Linked DNA regions of Homo sapiens: region 2 is linked to region 1. The links come from fine-mapping of genetic effects on gene expression. Tissue or cell type: whole blood. Region 1 holds a variant in brackets; the other region holds the start of a gene. All regions are shown on one strand. Distances are between the middles of the regions.

Region 1 (8,184 bases):
AAAAATAACTCCAAATAAAGGATTCCATTTCAGTGAATTATTCATCTGGCATAAATCATAAATTGTGGTCAGCTAAGTGCTAATGTGCTTAGGCAGAGTTGCTTACTCTGCAGCACTAATCAATGTTTATGAATATAGCAAGAATTACTGGAACATTCTCTATGACCTATTATCTCCAATGGATTAAGTGCTGACTCATTGACTCAACAGACTCAAAATTCTATTGATAGTTGTGCTTTGACTAACTTGTTATTGCAACAAGTTTTGCAATTAAAAAAATAATCCCTCATGTCCATCAACATACTAACAGTGATCATCTTTGATGAATTATGGGTAATATTTCATCTTTTAAAGTTTATATTTTCTGAAGTTTCTACAGTGAACATGTATTGTTTTATACTAAGAAAAAAGTAATTATTTTAATAACATCCTTCTTTTGTAATTATTGCCTAAAATAGTCATTCTGTTACATATAAGTACCTAGGCAGAAAGTGTTATTTCTACCCCCGCCAAGAACACCAAAAAAATGTTGTTTAAAAACTCTTATATCCAGAAACTTGAAGATAATCTATACTGATCCACTAAATAACTGCTATCTGAAATCACTATTACTTTGTTCTCCACTGAACTGCTAAGGGTGTGGTGGTGGTTGGAAAAGTCACCATTGGGCCTTGTGACTTTCTAGTGAGGTGCTGGGCCCCAAACCCTCTCTCCAACCCAAAGCTACTCTACAACAGTACAGCTGCCATGGAAAGCCTCTTCTCTTGTCATTGAACGACTCTTTTTTTTTCTTTTTTGAAATGGAGTCTCACCCTGTCGCCCAGGCTGGAGTGCAGTGGCGCATCTCAGCTCACTCCAACCTCCGCCTCCTGGGTTCAAACGATTCTCCTGCCTCAGCCTCCCGATACAGGTGCCCGACATCACACTCAGCTAATTTTTGTATTTTTAGTAGAGACGGGGTTTCACCATGTTGGCCAGGCTGGTCTGGAACTCCTGACCTCGTGATCTGCCTGCCTCGGCCACCCAAAGTGCTGGGATTACAGGCGTGAGCCACCGTGCCCAGCCAAAATGACTCTTTTAAAAGTGTTTAGAGGCTATAATCCCAGCTACTCAGGAGGCTGAGGCAGGAGAATCGCTTGAACCCGGGAGGCGGAGGTTGCAGTGAGCTGAGATCGCACCACTGCACTCCAGCCTGGGTTACAAGGGTGAAACTCCATCTCAAAAAAAAAAAAAAAAAAAAAAAAAAAGAATCAGGGCTGGGTGTGGTGGCTCATGCCTGTAATCCCAGCACTTTGGGAGGCCAAGGCGGGCGGATCACCTGAAGTTGGGAGTCCGAGACTAGCCTGGCCAACTTGGTGAGACCCCGTCTCTACTAAAAATACAAAAATTAGGTGGGTGTAGTGGCGTGCACCTGTAGTCCCAGCTACTCGGGAGGCTGAGGCAGGAGAATGACTTGAACCCAGGCGGCAGAAGTTGCTGGAGCCACTGCACTCCAGCCTGGGTGACAGAGTGGGACTCTGTCTAAAAAAAAAAAAAAAAAGTGTTTAGAATCACACAAATCAATTCAATACAACATGCATCATTTTAAATTTATGTGATAGTATGAATCGCCATACTTACTTTTATTAAGAAATTTTAAGGCCAGGCGTGGTGTCTTATGCCTGTAACCCCAGCACTTTGGGAGGCTGAGGCAGGCAGATCACTCGAGGTCAGGATTTCGAGACCAGCCTGACCAACATGGTGAAACCCCTCGCTACTAAAAATACAAAAATTAATCGGGCCTGGTGGTACATGCCTGTAGTCCCAGCTACTTGGGAGGCTGAGGCAGGAGAATGGCTTGAACTCACGAAGTGAAGGTTGCAGTGAGCCGAGATCATGCCATTGCACTCCAGCCTGGGAGATAGAGCAAGACTCTGTCTCAAAAAAAAAAAGAAAAGAAAAGAAAAGAAATTTTAGAAATGTCTATATTCTATGAGAAAACAAAATGAGGCAGATCTCAAAACAAAATTGGTATCCCCAGTTGGTTTCTCAGAAATCTTTTTCTGGAAATTAGTGAGGTTTGCAGACCTCTGTCCGCAGTGGTGGATGGAAGTAGCATGTTTATTAATTTCAGTAGCACATTATTAAACCGAAGGAGTATTTTAGAATAATATAGGTTGGCCTTTCTTCTACCTTTGGGAGTTATTAAACCCTGGCTTTGATGTCCAGAGACCTCTTTCATTAGGCACAAGAATAATGATATGGTTGTTAACTTTTAACAACTCAAATGTTCCCCAATAAATGTGCTGAGTGGTGGTACTGACCAGTAAAGCAAAAAGCCTGCAATTTGCCTGTACATGGATTACTAATGCCAACTTTTGTTGATACTAAAAGGAACTGGAAGGGAAATTCCATACTTGTCAGCTGCTCTCTAAAATTACACCAATTCTGCATAGGCAATTAAAGCCTTGAGATTATAACCAAACACTCATAAGTTTATAAACTCTGGAGAGGTGAAAAGCTGACATAGTTTTAGATGTAATGACATCTTATAAGCAAATGCTTTCAACATTTCAAACACAGCATGCCTTGCTATCTGGTGTGGGAAGAAAGAAGAAGGGAAGGGTCATTCTCCTTTTACCTTACAAATGTGTGTGGGCAAATGAATGGCTTTATGATGTCCACATCGCTGGCCTTTGTGAAAGAGAATTCGGAATTGGATCACCAAACTATCTTCATAAAAATAGGATACTCAGCCGGGTGCAGGGGTTCAGCCTGTAATCCCAGCACTTTGGGAGGCCAAGGCAGGAGAATTGCTTAAGCTCAGGAGTTCAAGACCAGCCTGGCCAACATAGTAAGATCCTGTCTCTACTAAAAATGCAAACATTAGCCAGGCGTGGTGGCGCCTGCCTGTAATCCCAGCTACTCAGGAGGCTGAAGCAGGAGAATCACTTGAAACTGGGAGGCAGAGGTTGCAGTGACCAGAGCACACCACTGCACTCCAGCCTGGATGACCAAAAAAAAAAAAAAAAGATATTTGCCATCTCTAACAAGCTATTGTATTTGCCAAAAGAGTACATTGTAAACCCTACTAGGATTATTTTACCATGACCATCCAACATTCTTTGATTAGTTAAATGTGGAAAGAAACATTTTCTTAATTAAGCAATTCTTAATTCAAGGCCCAATGTGGAATAAAGCATTTGTTCAGAGTGGTGTGGGTGTTTTGACTGCTCAAAATATGGTAAGAGCTTTTACTCCACAGTCTAAATGGAAAAAGCAGTAAGGTAATATAATAGGTTGACCGCACATTTCTTCTTTTAAAAAAATAAATAAATAAAATAATTTATTTATTTATTTAATGTAGAGACAGGGTCTCCCTATATTGCCCAGGCTGGTCCCGAACTCCTGGGCTCAAGTGATTTTCCTGACTTGGCCTCCCAAAGGGCTGGGATTACAGGTATGGGCCACCACACCCAGCCATTGACTACACATTTCTACCCTGTGGGTGCCTCAGGGGGTTGGCACTTCTGGCCAAGAATTTGAGTCTGGTCTGGGTATTTCCTAGATTTGCAAACTGGCACCCACTGCTGGTAAATGCAAATGTTCACTCCCAAGAATGAGAGTTGGGAAATTTGTTCATTTCCATCCCAGTTAGGTACATCAGGTACAGAAATAATGAAGTTATCTTAATTAAAAGAACACAACTGGACTACAAAGTGGTTGCACAGCACCCCAGGGATAGAAAAATCCAGCCCTGCTGGCAGTTTCTCTATGAACAACTCAAGCCTTTTGTCCATCTTGTGCATTTTGAATCTGAGGGCAAAACCGGTAATCTTCTTTCAGGGTCTGGGGACCTATGATCAGAATACATTTTGCTCTGTTAAGACTCAGTCTTGGGCAAAAGGAAAAATTTCTAACATAGGAAAGGATCAAGCAGTGGTTTTACATGCAGTCTTCACAGTACAGGGGCTATGTAAATTGTCATTTGTGTTTTAAAATGTGGATATGTAGACTGAGCGTGGTGGCTCATGCCTGTAATTCTAGCACTTTGGGAGACCCAGGCAGAAGAATCATCTGAGGCCAAGAATTTGAGACCAGCATAGACAACATAGCAAGACCCCATCTATAAAAAAGTCAAAATGTAGATATGTAAATATACACTTATATTTTAGCATATACATATAGCCTGGTATATACATATACCTTTTTTTCTGGAAGTATACACAAGAAATATTATTTTTTCATGGAAGGACTAAAGGATATGGGAAGGAAACTTCACTACCTATTTTATACCCTTCTATATTTCACTTTTACCATAGATATTTATTACTTTTTAAAATTAACAGGTTATTTTGATGGAATATTTAAATTTTGGAATGTTCAGATATTGTGAAATATTTAAATTTTCCTTATAGGTTTTTAATGTTAAAACTGAATATTATCTAAAAGAATAAAAAAAAGTTTCCAAAAGTGTTTTAGTTACCACATTAAAGAATAAAGACAAAAGTAGAGAAAGTACCAGAAATTTTTATAAATTTCCAAAATTTTATGAAAATAAAAGATTTGAGTCTCAGCCTCCTGAGTAGCTGGGACTACAGGCACATGGCATCATGC[C/G]CAGCTAATTTTTTATATTTTTTGTAGAGATGGGGTCTCACCGTGTTGCCCAGGCTGGTCTTGAACTCCTGGACTCAAGAGATCCACCGCCTTGGCCTCCCAAAGTGCTGGGATTACAGGCGTGAGCCACCATGCCCAGCCAAATTTATATTTTATATGTATTATTTTTTAATGAATTAAGTATAAATGGGACTCCTTGGTATTTGTTATTCATTTACTGATTCAACAAATATTTATCAAGTATGTACCACATTCCATTAAAGGAGCTAAATGCCTGAATTCAAAAATACATAAAACACAGTGCTTGCCTTCAATGCAATCACAATCCAGTGCCTTTACTTTGCAGAAAGGATGATGTCATCTCCTCAGGGAACTCCTTTTATTGTCTTCCTCGGCACTTTACAGTCAGAACATAAATTAATATTAAAATCAGAATCAAGAGAATATGTTTTTCCCTGTATCCTATATTCTTATAATTAATTATAGGCCATCTTAGTAGTTATTTTAATGTAGAAGCTAAAGTAAGAGACTAGTTAGGCCGGGTGGCTCACGCCTGTAGTCCCAGCACTTTGGGAGACTGAGACAGGTGAATTGCTTGAGCTCAAGAGTTCGAGACCAGCCTGGGCAACATGGTGAAACCCTGTCTCTACTAAAAATACAAAAATTAGCCCGGCATGGTGGCACATGCCTGTAGTCCCAGCTACTCAGGAGAGGTGAGGTGGGAGGATTGCTTGAGCCCAGGAAGTCAAGTTTGCAGTCAGCCATGATCACACCACTACACTGCAGCCTGGGCAACAGAGCAAGACCCTGTCTCAAAAAATAAAAAATAAAAATAAAGAGACTAGTTAATTCATCTGAGCAGTTACCTTAAAAATACATATTTACTTAGGAAATAGTAGGAATTTTTTTAAAAAAGAAAAATACCTATTTACAAACAAGATAAATAAACAAAATGTTTCCAGAATTCTATTCTGATACTCAAACACACAAGACACTCACTGGTAGGCAAGTTAGCTATTATTTTTATTATTCACATACAATCATTTGCCAAAATCCCTTGCCAACTTCAGAAGAATTCTCAAAAACTGACTCTGTGGTGCATCACTAAAGAAATCTCATAAATGCTTCTAAAATCTTGATTTCTTAGCCTTTTTCCATCACTAAAGCCTACCATTAAATTGCAGTCATCTAAAAAAGAATAGAGTGGCCAGGTGCAATGGCTCACACATGTAATCCCAGCACTTTGGGAGGCGGATCACAAGGTCAGGAGTTCAAGACCTGCCTGGCCAGCATAGTGAATTCCCATCTGTACCAAAAATACAAAAATTATCTGGGCATGGTAGCAAGCACCTGTAATCCTAGCTACTCGGGAGGCTAAGGCAGGAGAATTGTTTGATCCCAGGAGGCAGAGGTTGCAGTGAGCCGAGATCGCACCACTGCACGCCAGCCTAGGTGACGGAGCAAGACTCCATGTCCAAAAAAAAAAGAAAAAAAGAGTAGAGCCCAGGAATAGACTCTACATAAGCAACAATCTAGGTTTTAATCCTTGCTGTTTATTGTCTCCAAAATACATTTAAAAGTGAATTAATTAAAAATACTTTTAATGTTATTCAAAAGGATAACACCAATTGAAAAACCTCATGTGAGTATAAAATCAACAGCTGATTCGAAATGGCACATGGAAAATGTGTAGCCTTTCATCATGAAAAATGTCTAACCTTGTGATAGCACCAGAGTTGCAATCCTTTGCAAAGGATTCTGTTAACATATTTAATATTCCATGATAAATAAGGATCTGTGGTAGTTGACAAGCTTAAAGGAGAGCAAATGTGTAGATGACATACTTCCTAAGGTTCTTATCAGCTCTGAATTCTATAACAAGACAGAAATATTTGGTATAGTTCATCCTATTATTTTTGCTGTTGTTCATTCTCATTCCATCATGATTATAATTGTGTGACTTTATTATTGTGAGTTCCCTAAAATTTGCTAACTCCTTTCTCTAGCCACTTGTACCTAAAGGTTTACACTTTCTTTTTAGGGTCTCATTTTCTATACTGAATGGCCCCATGGCCACAATGAAGAAAGTCACCCTCACACTCTTAAATAATCACATCATTTTTATTGGCTTTGGTTTTTATACTTTTAAATGTATAACCATTCTAAGTAGCTAAGAAAACTGTTCATGGCTTAGCAGTTTTGCAGAACAATATAATCAAGAACACAGAAACATCCTTCTCATGGTTCCAACAGTCTCTCTATAACCACACTCCTTACAGAAAACATGTAAATGTAGAAAGATAAGATACATAACCACAAGCTTCACTACCATTTTTGTCTCCTCTATGATAACACACTGTGTCGGTTCACTCTTCTATCTATGTGGCTGCTGAAAGGTCCACCACTTCTCCTGTTTCTTCTTCTTTGGTTTCAGCCCCTTCACTCACTTTCTCATTCTCCATGTCTGTTTCCACCTTTTCCCCTGTCTCACCTGGAAAAGTAACCAAAGGAGATACTAAGAGACATTTATTTAGAATTAACATAAATTATCCCACAGTTTGTCTCCAATGGGGGCAGTTCTTGATCTTCAGGTCTAAGCAGTAAGTTTCTCTGGGGGTATCAAGAAAAGTAATCATCTCAGCTGGGCACCGTGGCTAACACCTGTAATCCAACACATTGGGAGGCCAAGGAAGGCGGATTGCCTGAGGTCAGGAGTTCAGGAGCCTAGCCCAAAGTAATGAAACCCCGTCTCTACTAAAAATACAAAAATTAGCTAGGCATGGTGGCACAAGCCTGTAATCCCAGCTACTCGGGGGGCTGAGGCAAGAGAATCACTTGAAGCCGGGAGGCAGAAGTTGCAGTGAGCTGAGATCACGCCACTGCACTCCAGTCTGGGCGACAGAACGAGACTCTGTCTCAAAAAAAAAAAAAAAAGGAAAAGAAAAGTAATCATCTCGATTCTCTCAGAGCCTCTGAATGGCTGAAATGTCGAGTCAATTAACATCTCGAGTCTTGGCATACTCTTATGAAAGAAATGCTCTCTATAAAATCAGGATGCAAAATTACCAAAGAAATGGTGGTAGAACAGATTATAATAGAAAGTTCATGGCCAGGTGTGATGGTTCCCACCTGTAATCCCAATGCTTTGGCAAGCTGAGGCAAGAGGATCACTTGAGGCCAGGAGTTCAAGACCAGCCTGGGCAACAAGACCTCCTGTCTTTACAAAATATTTTTCAAAAATTAGCTGGACAGCTGGGCGTGGTGGCTCACGCCTATAATCCCAGCAATTTGGAAAGCTGAGGCAGGCAGATTGCTTGAGCCTAGGGTCTGAGACCGGCCTGGCCAACATGGTAAAACCTTGTTTCTACAAAAAATACAAAAATTAACCAGGGATGGTGGCGCCCAGCTACTCAGGAGGCCGAGGAGGGAGAATGGATTGAGCTGGGAGGCAGAAGTTACAATGAGCTAAGAATACCACTGCACTCCAGCCTGAGTAACAGAGCAAGACTCTGTCTCAAAAGTAATAATTTTTTAAAAGAAAAAAAAATTAGCCAGGCATGGTGGCACATTCCTGTAGTCCTAGCTACT
Region 2 (8,184 bases), 21 kb before region 1:
CCAGGAGGTGGAGGTTGCATTGAGCCGAGATGATCACACCACTGCACTCCAAGTTGGGCAATAGAGCAAGTCTCCATCTCAAAAAAAAAAAAAAAAAAAACCCGTGTAACCAATAATTTTATATAAATTAGGTACTGGGCTACTGTGGGGCTTTTCTGCACATAGCAGGCTGTCTAATATCCCTGGTCCCTGCCCAATAAATGCCAGCAATGTTAGCCCAATTATGCCAACCAAAACACCTACACAAACTTCCAAAATGCCAGCCACATCAGAATTTGCCCACTTCCACTGAGAGCCACTAAATTACCCCCCATTCACTTACTTCCTTTTCCAATGCAAGACCTCACACAAAATTAAGACTTGCCTATATGGTATAGTGTTTAAGGGCTTTCACTATGGAGTTTGAAAGATGTGGGTTCAAATTCCTTCTTTACACTTTTTAGTTACATAATCTTAGGAAAATTACTTTCTCACTTTCAGCCTCAGCCTCTTCCTCTACAAGTTGCTGTGAGAATTAAACATTATATACAGGCCAGGTGGGATGGCTTATGCCTGTAATCCCAGCACTATGGGAGGCCAAGGCGAGTGGATCACTTGAGGCCAGGAGTTCAAGACCAGCCTGGCAAACATGGTGAAATCCCATCTCTACTAAAAAATACAAAAATGAGGCCGGGAGCGGTGGTTCACGCCTGTAATCCCAGCACTTTGGAAGGCCGAGGCAGAAGGATCACAAGGTCAGGAGATCAAGACCATCCTGGCTAACACAGTGAAACCCCGTCTCTACTAAAAATACAAAAAATTAGCCGGGCGTGTTGGCGGGCGCCTGTAGTCCCAGCTACTCGGGAGGCTGAGGCAGGAGAATGGCGTGAACCCGGTAGGCGGAGCTTCCAGTGAGCCGAGATCGCGCCACTGCACTCCAGCCTGGGCGACGGAGCAAGACTCCGTCTCAAGAAAAAAAAAAAAAAATACAAAAATGAGCCACGTGTGATGGCATGCGCTTGTAATCCCAGCTGCTCGGGAGGCTGAGGCACGAGAATCCTTTGAACCCAGGAGGCGGAGATTGTGGTGAGCCGAGATCACGCCACTGCACTCCAGCCTGGGCGATAGAGTGAGACTCTGTCTCAAAATAAAAAAATGAACAAACATATACATACTGTACATGGTTTTGGCTTTGCAAAATGCATATACACAACTCACTTAGCATGGGGCTTTATGCTAACTAAATGCTCAGTTTATGGTAGCTATTATTCTTAAATAATAAATGAAATAGCAGGGATTGATGCCATTTCACTGTCTCACTCCACTAATTTCAACTAAATGAAAGACAGCTATATCTACATGCAAAAACATTTTTCAAATTAAACAGTATGAAGGAAGTAAATGGAGTTCTGCAGAACTGGCTGGCTAGTGAAGCACATGATTCAGATCGGTCTGCATTAAAAGCCATTCCAAATATTTTACAAAACAACTTAGTTAACCTACTGTTACCTGCTTGAATCAGAACTCACCAGCAAGGCTAGACAAGAACACCATAGAAACTCTAGCTCCCCTCAGTATTAGAATGGTCCAAGAAAAGGTTGGTGCTGGAGGATTAGGATAACCTTGGGAACATCCCTGAGCTTTGGGTCCAGACTAAAATATGAGGAAATCAAACTGGCAGTGGTCCTCTAACAGCAGAAGGGAATGAATATAGGATGCATCTTTATGAAGTCTGAGGATTTAATTTAAAAGTTTCCAGAGGCCTGGTGTGGTGGTTCACATCTATAATCCCAGCACTTTGGGAGGCCAAGGCGGGAGGATTGCTTGAGCTCAGGAGAAACCAACCTGAGCAACATAGTGAGAACTCATCCCTACAAAGAAATCAAAAAATAAGCTAGGCATAGTTATGAGCTTGTGGTCCCACCTACTCGGGAGGCTGAAGTGGGAAGATCGCTTGAGACAGGGAGGTCAAGGCTGCAGTGAGTGAGCCTTGATCACATTACTGCACTCCAGCCTGGGTGACAGAGCAAGACCCTGTCTCAAAAAAAAAAGTTTCCAGAAGGAATCTTAACTCTTACCTTCACCTTCAAGTCAGTTTTGTCAAACTTTAATAAGCACTAAATATGTGCTGCCTTTATAAAAATATTTTCGCCAAATCTTCAAATAAAATGGATACGTTATGTTTTCTGATACAGCTTAGTATCCTCTGGCCAGACACAACCTTTGGTGTTAGTTAGTTCCCAGTTTGAGAACCTGGGAACTAACTAGATGATGTCTATTTTCTTCCAGATCTAAAAAGTTGGTGATTCAGACTTGATATAAAATCTGTCTTAAGAATAAAGGTACCTTGTTTCACAAGAAATATTTTACACAAGTTGAATCATTTGTAATGCTCCAAAATAGCTTCTTATTTAAAAACTTAAATGGTGAATTATTTTGTAAATAAAAATATGTCTTAATTATCTAGTTTAATCAGATTTAATAAACTTTTGGGCACCTACTATGTGCCCAATAGTTTCAGGCTGTGTATAATTCCAAAGTAGAATAAGAATTTTGTCATCTTAGGCAGCATTGAGAACTTGATGTGGCAGGCACTATTCTACATGACTTATTCATTTAATTCTCACAACTCTGTGGTCACTAGTATTATTCTCATCTTATAAATGAAGAAATCGAAGCACAGAGATTTTATATACCAGTCCAAGGCTACTAAGCTTGTGATTGTGCTGAGATTCAAACCAGGCAGTCTGACTCTATCCACTATTCTTTTTTTTTTTTCCACCCCTTCCCTCTCCAATCCACTATTCTTGAAACACATAACAATTAGAAAATAGGATCTCATATAATAAAATACTAAATTATGCGGTACAGCACAATAGGAAACAGGACAAGGGAAAGAAAAAAAATGAGGCCGGGCATAATGGTTACACCTGTAATCCCTGCACTTTGGGAGGCTGAGGTGGGAGAATTGCTTGAGCCCAAGAGTTGGAGACCAGCCTGGCCAATATGAAGAAGCCCCGTCTCCACAGAAAATACAAAAATTAGCCGGGCGTGCTGGTGTGCACTTGTAATCCCAACTACTTGAGATGCTCAGGCTGGAGGATTGCTTCAGCCCAGGAGGTCAAGGTTTCAGTGAGCCAAGATCATGCCACTGTACTCCAGCCAGGGTGACAGAGTGAGATCCTGTCTTGAAAGAAAGAAAACAAAGAAAAAGAAAAGGAAAGGAAGGAAAGAAGAAAAAGAAAAAAATGTGAATTGGTAGGAAAAGTCAAAGAGAAAATAGAATTTCAGTTAGCTGGAATTTGCACAGATAAGGAAGAAAGAGTATTCAGGAATCCACAGTGTGAATACAGGAGGACTCTAGTGGGAAAAGGGAGTAGATGACAATGAAACTTGAATAGGCAAGGGGAGGCCAGACTGAAAGGTCTTTTATTCCAGGCCCCAAACCAATGAAAAAGATCAGAAGGTTCCTGAGCCGGAAGTAGGAAGGCCAAAACCTTAGCAGTATGTAGGACAAAATGAGAGGGAATAAAGCAGATTTTCTTGTATTATCTTTAGGAAGCAGGGAAGGCAGAGATTTTATTATTATTTTTTTTAACTGTTGCATTCCTCCTAGCATCTAGCAGAGTGCCTTACACAAAGTAGGGACTCATATATCTATGAGTGCCCGCATAAATGAAGAAACGAAGCGTACTTACAATGCAAATATTAACAGGATAAGAAATATTTAGCCAAGTACCACCCCTTCTGACACAGCAGAATACTTACAAGGGATCTGGGCCATTCCAGATCACCATCTTTCTTTCTGAAATGATATCCCAATCACTAGGGCTCTGTTCAGACAGTGACCTTGTAAAGCCCGAGGAGCACCCTAGAGAAGGGAACACAGGAGGAGCAGGAAAGGGAACACGGGAGGACCAACGCCCAGATCTCAGCGTGGTCGCCAGAATGACCCATATTAGTCATTTGGGGTTGCAGAAGAGGGGATGCAAGCCCATTCCCAGGACGGCCTCCACCCGGCGGGGCAATGAAGGGAAATGACTGACGTAGGGGGCTCCAGCGCAGGGGCCGAAGGAGATGCGACACCAGGGAGAGGGGCCCCGGGCACAGGCAGCAAGGAAAGAGGTCAGCGGAGTCTGAGAGAGAAACGATGAAGAGGGGAGACGGGCGCCGGGAGGGGGGCCGCCGCATACAGTTCCCCCGACACTCGCATCCTGGAAGGCACCAGCCCCTCACGACCAACCTGCCAGACGCTGTGAGGAATCCCCGGGTCAGAATGACAAGCCTCCGCGACAGTACCCACCGAGCCAAAGCTCCTGGAGAGCGCGCTGGAGAGCGCATGCGCCAGACCGGGCGCTTCCTCCACGTGGCCTGGAGCGTCGCCGAAACTACAGTTCCCAGAATGCCGCACGAGCCCGCCCCCAGCGGGAGCTGTGGGGCAGAGGCGCTGCTGTGGTTGGTCAGTCCAGTAAGAAGCCAGCAGGGCTGGTGCTGGGGCTTCTTCTCCTGAAGGGGCTGCAAGAGGGAAGGCTTAGCCATGTCGTCCTTGATCAGAAGGGTGATCAGCACCGCGAAAGCCCCAGGGGCCATTGGACCCTACAGGTAACGTGGCTGGTGGAAGCTGTGTCGGACCCAGGGCGTGCGGGTTCGGGGATTCGGGGTTGGGGCCACTCCGGGCCGGAGCCCCAGCTAACACGCAAGGAAATTGAGCCTGGAAAGTAAGCAACGCGCCCGAAGACCCACAGAGAGTTGGGAGCCACGATGGGACCAGGAACCTGCACTCCATGGGACTTTGCTCGTTCTGGGGCTGCCTCGCTGCGGAGCACAGCCTGCCAGAAAGCTCTCCCCAGTTAGAAGCCTTCAGACCCTGTGTTTTGTTTTGGGGGAGGGGGTCGTTTTTGTTTTCTTGGTAACAGCTTTATTGAGATATAATTCACGTACCGTAAGATTCACCCCCTTTAACATGTACAATTCAGTGGTTTTGACCATACTCACAGAGTTGTGCAGCCATCACCACTTTCTTCAGAACATTTTCATCACCCCAAAAATAAATCCCATCCCCATTAGCATTCACTCCCCATTCTCCTCTCCCCCGGCCCCTGACAATCTACTTGCATCTTCATGGATTTGCTTGTTGTGGACATTTCCTATAAATTGAATCATAAAACATGCAGTCCTTTATGACCAACTTCTTTCATTAGCTTCATACTTGGTCTGCCTCTCTCCCAACTGAAAAGAGCCCCATCAACAGCTCCCTCCTTTAAACCTACTGCTGTGAGAAAAGGCACTGAGATGTGGCAGAACAGGAATTATTATAGAAAACTTGGAAATAAATAAAATGCAGTAGAAGTGAGAGGGCAAGTGGGGTAGGGAGTAAAGGAGAAAAAAGACAAATTGATTTTAACTTGGGGTGGAAGAGGAAAAAGAAGATTTAGGAAGGTTCCTTGTGAGAGGTAGTCCTTTGGTTTTGAAGGTTGGTTTTGTCATTTATAGTAGTGTTGTAAAGTTTGATTTTTAAATTAATTTATTAAGGATTTCAACAGGAAGTCATTGAGTGAAGGGCATGGAGGTAGAAGTCAGGTAGAGGGAATGGCTTGAGTGAGGGCATGGAGGTAGAAGAATGCATGGTATAAAGATTTTGGGGAGAAAGTTTTCATAATTCAAGTGCTACTTCTGTCTTTTTTGTTTGTTTGTTTGCCAAATCTGTATATCACTTATAATTTACTTAACCTATTTCTTTGAGATGGCTCACTTCATTTTATTTAACAAGTTAATTGAAAAAGGAAACTTTACAACAGTACACTAAATAGAAAACAATTCAATAGAAAGTAATAGTAAAAAATAAACTCAATTAAAAAAAGGTATTATTAAATTTTAGCTAGATATTGCAGTTGGCTCAAAACCTGAGGCCTGCTCTCTCTTTGTTAAGAGTGATGTTTCTTTAGCCGGGTACTGTGGTTCACGCCTGTAATCCCAGCACTGTGGGAGGCCGAGGTAAGAGGATTGCTTGAGGTCAGGAGTTCAAGACCAGCCTGGGCAACATAGTGAGACCCCCATCTCTATTTAAAAAAAAAAAAAAGTTTAATTAAAAACTTTCAAGTGATGTTTTAATTTGTTTTCTAAAGATGATTTTTTTTCTCCTTAATGTAATCAAACGGGGTAGAGTCATCATTGCTAACATTTACTGATGCTTACTCAGCAGCATTGGGCACTATCCCTTTTTTTTTTTTTTTTTTTTTTTTTTTGGAGGCAGAGTCTCACTCTGTTGCCCAGGCTAGAGTGCAGTGGTGCAATCTCAGCTCACTGCAACCTCCACCCCACAGATTCAAGTGATTCTCATGTCTCAGCCTCCCAAGTAGCTGGGATTACAGGCAGGTGCCACCACACCCGGCTAATTTTTGTATTTTTAGTAGAGACAGGGTTTCACTGTGTTGGTCAGGCTGGTATTGAACTCCTGACCTAAAGCGATCCACCTACCTCGGCTTCCCAAAGTACTCGGATTACAGGTGTCAGCCACCATGCCTGGCCAGCACCAGGCACTGTTCTAAGTTATTTATGTGCATGGTTATATTATAGTCCCTATTTTTCAGATGAAGAAACTGATGTGTGCAAAATTAAATAATTTGCCAAAAGTTACACCACTAAAAAGTGATGTAACAAAATTTGAATTTAGGAAATGGGTACTAGAGCCTAGTCTTAATCATTTACTTTGTTGTCCCTGGTGTAGATTGAAAAAAAAAATTGGAAAAGGAATCATTTTCTTACTATGTAAGACTGTGTATAAGTCTTACTGTGTATGACTGACTCCTTTGAGAAATACTGATTAAGAGTTGGACTTTGGATTTGAATTTTTGTTTTGCCTCTTTTTAATTATATGATCTTGCAGAGTGACTTAACCTCTCTTAGTTTGCTTCTTTGTCTTCTCAATGGGCATAAATAATACCATTTGATAAGATTATTGTGGGAATTAAATAAAAGTGACCAACAAAAATTAGATTTTGGCCAGGCACAGTGGTTCACACCTGTAATCCCAGCACTTTGGGAGGCCGAGGCAGGTGGATCACAAGCTCAGGAGTTCAAGACCAGCCTGGCCAAGATGGTGAAACCCCGTCTCTACTAAAAATACCAAAAAAAAAAAAAAATTAGCTGGGTATAGTGGCGTATGCCTGTAATCTCAGCTACTCGGGAGGCTGAGGCAGTGAATTGCTTGAACCTGGAAGGCAGAGGTCGCGGTGAGCCAAGATCGCACCACTGCACTCCAGCCTGGGCTACAGAGCGAGACTCTGTCTCAAAAAAAAAAAAAAAAGATTTTAGCAGGGTACAGGTTGTGGTGGTTTCCAATACTAAATGGAAGAATATAAACTTTATTTTGTATATAATAAGGAACAATTAAATGTGGTTTTTTTCTTGTGGTTGTTGTGGTTGTGTGTTTGTATGTGTGTATATTGAGACAGTGTTTCGCTGTGTCACCCAGGCTGGAGCCGGGATCACAGCTTATTGTCGCCTCAACCTCCCGGGCTCAAGCCATCCTCCCACCTCAGCTTCCCAAGTAGCTGGGGCTACAGGCTCAGGCCACCATGCCCAGATAATTTTTGTATTTTTTATAGAGCTGGGGTTTTACCATGTTGCCCAGGCTAAATGTTTTTAAGCAGGGTGGAACATGATCAGATCTTTTAAAAAGAATTCTGATAGTAATTCTGATAGAAATTTGGAGGTAAAGAAAGTGAGAATAGTTAGGGGATATTATAAGTAAAAATTTGTGATTTTTTTTCTCCTTCTGCCCTAATGTCTTTCTCTCAATCACACAGTGGTAGCATTTAGAAAAACATCTTTACCTCCAAACAAGAGGGACACAACCAAATCAAAGTGATTATTAGAGACACTTTGTCCTGGAGCCTGCTAAAGAGCATACCCCTTCCTTGACCTATTTAGAGATACTCTGTGGACTTTGTTCAGGAAAGAAAGCATAACAGTAATGTTCCTGGTTGACTTGAAGGTAGGTGGGAGTCAACTGTCTTTATAAAGCTGAAAGCTAAAAAGAGGGGAATCATCATATGAATGTGCCAGTATGACAAGAAAAAAAGCCACCAGCCAGCTTCATGGTGTGGAGACTTCCAGGACATTGTGCCTCTTGTGCACTAGGTGACTAGAAATGGTGCTTATTTTCAATAGTTAATGTTTAAGAAAAAAAACAGACTGCAACTA

What was found. PIP is the estimated chance that this variant, and not a neighbour inherited with it, causes the effect.
Region 2: RIDA starts here. The variant in region 1 is fine-mapped to the expression of RIDA in whole blood (INTERVAL, PIP 0.98).

Annotation. Positions count from the first base shown.
Region 1 is chr8:98,092,124-98,100,307 of GRCh38, reverse strand. It overlaps ERICH5 (glutamate rich 5), which reads right to left. Exons shown (of 3, transcript NM_173549.3): 3 at 6,699-7,087. The coding sequence ends at 6,975. Among named protein-coding and RNA genes, the nearest start is that of RIDA, 21 kb to the left of the region's middle. The variant C/G (reference allele first, on the strand shown) is at 4,597.
Region 2 is chr8:98,113,429-98,121,612 of GRCh38, reverse strand. It overlaps RIDA (reactive intermediate imine deaminase A), which reads left to right and starts at 4,442. Exons shown (of 6, transcript NM_005836.3): 1 at 4,442-4,581. The coding sequence starts at 4,517. It overlaps POP1 (POP1 ribonuclease P/MRP subunit), which reads right to left and starts at 4,320. Exons shown (of 16, transcript NM_001145860.2): 1 at 4,223-4,320. RefSeq lists enhancers at 4,048-4,217, 4,288-4,337.